Linked DNA regions of Homo sapiens. The protein of the gene in region 1 interacts with the protein of each later gene in a biochemical or structural test. Each region holds a gene or a part of one and is shown on either strand. Other genes may lie near its edges. The genes, in order: ACAT1 and PDHA1.

The links.
Region 2: of the proteins of ACAT1 (region 1) and PDHA1, one has a biochemical effect on the other in vitro, tested with the Homo sapiens proteins (one study listed by BioGRID).

The regions. Positions count from the first base shown.
Region 1 is NC_000011.10:108,135,067-108,138,663, reverse strand, and holds part of ACAT1 (acetyl-CoA acetyltransferase, mitochondrial isoform b precursor), read right to left. Parts: intron 3,523-3,597; coding exon 3,422-3,522; intron 1-3,421. UniProt on the Homo sapiens protein: This is one of the enzymes that catalyzes the last step of the mitochondrial beta-oxidation pathway, an aerobic process breaking down fatty acids into acetyl-CoA.
Region 2 is NC_000023.11:19,353,476-19,357,453, reverse strand, and holds part of PDHA1 (pyruvate dehydrogenase E1 component subunit alpha, somatic form, mitochondrial isoform 1 precursor), read right to left. Parts: intron 2,964-3,978; coding exon 2,871-2,963; intron 2,106-2,870; coding exon 1,950-2,105; intron 1,769-1,949; coding exon 1,697-1,768; intron 1-1,696. UniProt on the Homo sapiens protein: The pyruvate dehydrogenase complex catalyzes the overall conversion of pyruvate to acetyl-CoA and CO(2), and thereby links the glycolytic pathway to the tricarboxylic cycle.

The DNA.
Region 1 (3,597 bases):
GCACTTTAGAAGGCTGAGGCAGGTGGATCACTTGAGGTCAGGAGTTCTGGATCCGCCTGGCCAACATGGTGAAACCCCGTCTCTACTAAAAATACAAAAATTAGCTGGGTGTGGTGGTGGGCACTTCTAATCCCAGCTACTCGGGAGGCCAAGGCAGGAGGATTGCTTGAACCTGGGAGGCAGAGGTTGCTGTGAGCTGAGATTGTGCCACTGCACTCCAGCCTGGGGGGCAGAGCAAGACTCCTCAAAAGAAAAAAAAAAAAAGTAGAGGCGGAGATTGCAGTGAGCTGAGATCGTGCCACTGCACTCCAGCCTGGGTGACAGCAAGGCTCTGTCTCAAAAGTTCACAACCAGACATTAATAAGAATACCAGAAATCTGGCTGGGCACGGTGGCTCACCCCTGTAATCCCAGCACTCTGGGAGGCCAAAGCGGGCTGATCACGAGGTCAGGAAATCGAGACCATCCTGGCTAACAGTGAAACCCCATCTCTACTAAAAATACAAAAATTAGCCGGGTTTGGTGGCACACGCCTGTAGTCCCAGCTACTCGGGAGGCTGAGGCAAGAGAATGGCGTGAACCTGGGAGGCAGAGCTTGCAGTGAGCCAAGATCGCACCACTGCACTTCAGCCTGGGTGACAAAGCAAGACTCTGTCTTTAAAAAAAAAATACCAGAAATCTTTCATGTAAAACCATCTTCTGAAATTCTTAAATTTTCTTTTAGACAGGTCTCGCTGTTGCCCAGGCTGGAGTGCAGTGGCACGATCTCAGCTCACTGCAATCTCTGCCTTTTGGGCTCAAGTGATCCTCCCACCTCAGCCTCCCAAGTAGCTGGGACTACAGGCATGCACCATCACACCCAGCTAATTTTTGTATAATATTTTTAGTAGAGATGGGGTTTCACTATATCACCCAGGCCGGTCTCAAACTCCCAGACTCAAGCGATCCGCCCACCTCAGCCTCCCAAAGTGCTCGGATTACAGGTGTGAGCCACCATGACTGGCCTGAAATTCTTAACTTCTAACCCTTCATTTCATTCATGCTGCTAAAAATTTAATGTGCTCTAGAAGATTAGAAGTAATCTCAGTTCATGAAAATAATCATACTTCCTTGACTGAGATCCTCATCATCTCTTCCTGGACAGCTGAGATAATTTTCCACTTGATCTTCTGACATGCAGCCTTTCCACCAAAGCATCATCAACACTCATCTGACTCATTTTGGCTAGAATGTAAGTCTGATCATTTCGCACCTTAGATAACTCAGCATAATATATAAAGCCTTTACAGTATCCCTTCTCTCCCCTTTTTCAGTCTCACAGCCTAACCTATACCTCAGGTCACATGGAACTAGTTAAAGCTCTCCAGAGACACCATGCACATTTCACACACATACCTCTGCACTTTCCCCATCCACCAACATGTAAAACACCTACATTTCTCTTAAAACTAATCAGAACACTACTTCATGTCTGCCTTGACCATTTATTTCTATCCTTTCTTGAAACAGTTTCTCCTCCTTTGTGTTCCCCAATTACTATGCAATGCTTTTAATATTATTATATGTTTACATGTCAAGTCTTCCCACTAGACTATGCTCCTTTGAGGCCAGACACCCTGTCATATTTTTACATCCTTGGCAACTGGCATATATAAGTTTAATAAATATTAATCAACTTGTTACTACTTTACAAGTCAACAAAAAAAAATCACTTGCATTATAAGGGCTAGTTAAAAACAGTTTAATATAAAACATTAATGTAAACATAAAGCCAATAATATCTTCTTACAGTCTTTAATCAGGCATACAGACAAGCAAGCTCTATACCAAAGAAACATAAATATTTTGCCTATTCCGAAATAGAGAAATTCTTAATCAGTTCTCATCTAAGTTTTATTCACTTGTACTTTTTACTGGGGGTGATGGCAATAATAAGTGACAGAAAATAAGGTATCAATTCTTCATTATAAAGTAAAACTGACTGTTTTCTAAGGTCATAAATATTCAAAACAAAGCACTTCCAAGAATGCCTATAAGTCACTGTATATATCCACAAATGAATAAAATAATATTAAATGAAAGTATTTCAATATAGTACAAATGGCATTTGCTAGAGAACCACAATACTTCAATTAAGACAAAACTTTCCATGACAAACAGTTCTGAAACTAAATCTGGTGACCGTTTTTCACCTACCAGTTTGACAAGGGTTTGGTACCACCCAGTGGTGGTGCAGATCCAGACAAGTCACACAATTTTTGGAAAGTCTAACTGGTACAACTTTTATGGAAAGCATTTGCAAATACCAAAATGTTCAAATCCTGACTCAGCATTTCTTTTAGGCATTTTTCCAACAGAGACCTGCACATGTACAGATTTTTTTAAATGTTTTGTTCACCACTCTATTTCCAATGACTGTCACATGGCAGATGCTCAGCCCTGTAACTCTGTGGCTGTCTCAGACACACTGAAAAAAATCTTCATCTGAAAAATGAAGGGCTCAGATCTGAGAGAATCTTGATTCTTCTGTGTGTCCAGGTCTCACCTCCTGACATGACAGCATATTTTTGCTAAGGAGCCTGTCTCTTGCTTGATCTCAAGTAAAGACAAGATATAGATCAGCAAGGCTAATTAGAAAGCCTGTAGAACTTAACTTAATGACTACAAATTAGTCATCAAGCCTGGGCTCAAGCAATGATTTGATTCCCAGGGTTAAGCACCGTGTTCTCCTTTATAATGAAAACCTGTCTTATTCTGGCAAATACAGTATTTATGAATTTTTAGTCACCCAGCCTCAGAGAAAGACCCAAATGCCTTGACTAAAAACAATTTTTTTTTTTTGAGAGTCTTGCTCTATCTCCCAGGTTGGAGTGCAGTGGTACAATCTCAGCTCACTGCAATCTCTGCCTCCCAGATGCAAGTGACTCTTGTGCCTCAGCTTCCCGAGTAGCTGGAATTACAGGCACCTGCCACCACGCCCAGCTAATTTTTGTATTTTTAGTAGAGACGGGGTTTCACCATGTGATCTGCCCCCAGCCTCAGCCTCCCAAAGTGCTGGGATTATAGGAGTGAGCCACTGTGCCTGGGCCTAAAAACAACTTTGTAACACAAGACACTTAGGCTTTTTTTTTTTTCAAAGAGCAGAGTCTCGCTTGCTATGTTGCCTACGCTGGTCTCAAACTCCTGGGATCCTCCTGCCTCGACCTTCCAAAGTGCTTACAGACATGATACCCAGCCTACGCTATCATTTTGACCATACTTCAAATGGACTTAGCAAATCCAGACACTCTTGAGCATGTGAGAAAACATACTAACTTATGAGAAAGAATCTCATTTCTAAAATATGAATATGCCTAGATTTTTGTGTCTTTTAGCCCTAGGTATTACTCTGATTAATAAATGGGAAGGACGGTGTTTCTTACCTGATGTCCACACATAAGACTTTGAGAGGCCATCATGATGGCTTTCATTCCTGAAGCACAAACTTTGTTTATGGTGGTACATGGAGTAGAAATAGGTAAGCCTAAAACCAATATAAGTCACTTTTGAAAAACCGATACTCAAACACAACTGCAGAACTTAATAGAGCATGTTACTA
Region 2 (3,978 bases), on another chromosome or scaffold:
TCTCATTTTTAATAAGGCAATCTGCCAACAGCTTGTTTTGAATCAAAAAGGCTTTGAAGGCCAGGCATGGTGGCTCATGCCTGTAATCCCAGCACTTTGGGAAGCTGAGGTGGGCAGAGCACTTGCGCCCAGGAGTTCGAGACTAGCCTGGACAACATGGCAAAACCCCATCTCTATCAAAAAATACAAAAATTAGCCAGGCATGGTGGCGTGCGCCTGTAGTCCCAGCTACTTGGGAGGATCACCTGATTCTGGAAGGTCAAGGGTGCAGTGAGCTGTGAGTGTGCCACTGCGCGAGACCCTGTGAAAAAAGAAAAAGGCTCTGAGCATGTTCTAGAGCCTCCTGCTATTGGCTAGACAGATTTCCATCTCATGCTCCTTTCTCATGGTGTGTTGTGGGGCTGGCAGCCACTCCTACTTCACAGACCTTGCTAGTGTGTAACAAAGTTGGCAGGCACCAACAACCTCTGCTACCCAAACCCCAAGGCTCTGCTGGGAGTCTGGACAGTTGGGCTCGCTCATTCTACACTAGCCCACTTCCAGGAGACGGCTCTGAACACTGGGGTGGAGAAACATTGAGGATCCTTGGTTGGTTTGGTGCAGCAGTTAAAATGGGCGAGTGGGGAGCTGGCTCCAAGACAGAGTAGCTGTGTACCTTTAACTGCTCTATGGCTCAGTTTCCTTGTCTGCAAAATGGGCAAAACAATAACACCTAACTCAGAATTGTGAAGGTTATCTGTTTGGGAAAGTCACACATTCTACAACTACATTCTACAACTCCCCTTGTCTCCAGCCAGGGCTGGCCCCCATGTATTCTTTTCAGGAATTGGGAGAGGTGGCGTCAATACCCATCACTCAGGGCCTGGCACTCCCAGCCTTAGGGTCCTGACATAGACTGCTCAGCCCATTGTACCCAAGCTGTAGTCTTGGTCCTGCTCTAGTTCATTCTACTCATTAGCTCTTATTTAATGTTACTACATTCCCACCCTCACTTCCCTGTCTCTCCACTTTGTGACATTTCCATCATTGCTGGCCACATCTGATTCACATCACTGCCTAAACGTACATGGTATGGCGCTGAAGTGCCAACTTCAGAAACCTTGTTTCTGGGCTGTAGAACACTGATTTAGGGAGAACACCCAAACCTCCTAAGCCTATACTAGTGCCAAAGGAAGTGAAACCTCTTTAGGCCAGTCTCCCTCTTACCATCTCCCTCACTGCCATACACTGAAAAGGGAAAGATCCTTAGGACTGAGCAAGACTAAGATTACGAGCTTCTACCATACTGTTTAATTTGTATAAGACACACATATTAAATGCCTATTGTATACATGACATTCTATGCTGGACACTGTGGGGATCCCCAATCTGTTCCTTCAAGGGACTCATGATTAATGGGGGGTGGGGAGGAGGGACAGAATTAACCTAAGGAAAAGGCAAATCAGTTGTCATGAAGACAGGCCAAAGCAGAGGAAGCACCAGAACGGACTTCCCCCAAATGAGAGAAACGTAGGCTTCCCAGCAGGTGAGCTACCAAGACCAAGCTACCCAAAGGAGCCCTGCTCCCTTCACTCTGCTTCCATCTCATGCACCTCAATTAGCAGGTACCCACTAACAGCTTCAGCAGGCACATGGGAGGCAGTCTTTGAACTTCCAGAGATAAATGTCACTAGCCCAGAGGGCTTTAGAGCCTTACCTTCCCAGATCTACAATAGGCAGCAGCAAACCTTGTTGCCTCTCGGACGCACAGGATATCCATTCCATCCACCTGGTAATAAACAGGGGAGGGGCGAAGCATGAATCCAACTGCCCCAAACCATTTTACTTTCACATGACCTGCTCCTGTATGAGAATGAAACTCTCCAATGTTTCTAAGATCGTCAAGGGTCTGCACAAGGACATACCCTTGGCCTTGGCCTTGGCCCCGGCCCCACCACAGGTGTCCTTACTCTCAGCCCAGGAATGAAATCGCCTCTCTTGTAGTAATCAGTGCTGGCTGCCGCTCTCTCAACAGACGTTCCCATTCCATAGCGATTATTCTCACAGATGAAAATACAAGGTAATTTCCACAAAGCTGCCATGTTGTAAGCTTCGAATATCTGGCCCTGGAAGTAGTTACGAAAAGGGGTTTCATTTGGCTTCTTTCTCCAGGCTTCATCATCTCTAACAGCTGCTGCTCTGCCTGGCACAGAAAGCTTTCATAAAGCACAGAAAGCCTCCTCTTCTAAAACCGAGCTTTGGGTGGTGAGGGAAAGCGGGGTGGGTGGTGGAGGAGAAGTAGCAGGCATCATACTCTTGCAACTAAGGAAGGTGACAAACCAACTACTACTTGTTTCTTTGGGGCCATGCTAGCAGTAAGGAACACACTGGAAAAAAGATCAATATGAAATCTATCAGGCCCACTGGATAGCCAGAGTGAACCAGCACCTAAGAATCAGCCTCTAGAACAGGGCTTCACAGAGTGCTGGCCACAGACTGGGGATTACTCGGTAACAAGAGAAGCATAGAAACTGAGTTAGGACTCAGACGCTATTATCCGAATTTGACACTGCCAGCCCGGACATCCAAGAGAATGGGTCTGTATTGTTTTGCAATAGGTTGTGGGGAGGTCCTTTACCACAGGGCCTTTGCCAAGCACTGATGTAGAGCAAAGGTGAGCTCCTTCACAGGAATGTGCCCCCGTAAGTCTCTTGTGAAACAACGCTAAGAGGTCAATCTCTAATCTGGCCATAAGTCAACCAAATTTGAGCTAGCCATAGGACTTGCTATTTCACCTAATAAGCAATATGCTACTTCTTTAGAAATTCAACTGTAAATATTAAAGACTTTGAAAATAAGACTGTTTTTGGGAAGTTAAGAGACATAATTACCTGGTTAGCAGCACCATCGCCATATAAAGTCAGGCAGACCTCATCTTTTCCATTATACTTACAGGCTAGAGCAATCCCAGCGCCCAGGGGCACCTAACATTAAGGACAACCGAGAAAGGAACCACAGAAATCCATGAGGGGAGATACTAATTAATGCCCTGCATTTTCACTCCTGGCCAGAATCTGACACAGAAATTACACTGCTGCTACAAACTCTCCTTCCAACCCTATCTCTCTGTTTATCCCACCTCCGATATTTTCAATAAAGCACTAAAGTAATATATAAATACTATGTTCTATTTTAACCAGTAAGCACTAACATTTCTGCATTCAAGAGTTAAAAAATAAAACCTGGCCGGGCGTGGTGGCTCACGCCTGTAATCCCAGCACTTTGGGCAGATCACGAGGTCCACAGATCGAGACCATCCTGGACAAGATGGTGAAACCCCGTCTCTACTAAAAATACAAAAAATGGTTGGGCATGGTGGCACGTAACTATATTCCCAGCTACTCGGGAGGCTGAGGCAGGAGAATTGCTTGAACCCGGGGGTGGAGGTTGCAGTGAGCTGAGATTACACCACTGCTCCAGCCTGGGCGGCTGAGCAAGACTCCATTTCAAAAGGAAAAATAAAACCTAGGTTTAAAAAAAAACAACACATAATAGAATCTTAATATATTAGAAAGGAAAAGAAACAGTCCGGATATAATTTTGTGCTGTTAATTCTTCATCATTCACTAACTGATGAGAACAAGGACCCCAAAATGAAGTTGACAAGATAAAGCAATTAATGTACTGAAATATAAATAGGAAGGGGAAGGTATGGCTCCACTGCTAGAGGTTCCTGCTTACTTATAAAACAGCAGACACCTAAAAGGAAACATTATAAATCACCATCCAAATCTACTCATCTCTCAAACGGTAGGATATGAAGCACTAGGTCTTTAAAAGCAAACCAAGCCCCCAAAATAGTCACGCGTCACTTAACAACAGGGATATATTCTCAGAATTGCATCACTAGGCGATTTTGTCATGTGAACACCATACTGTAATGCACGAACCTAGATGGTACAGCCCACTGCACACCTAGGCTGTATAGTAGAGCCTACT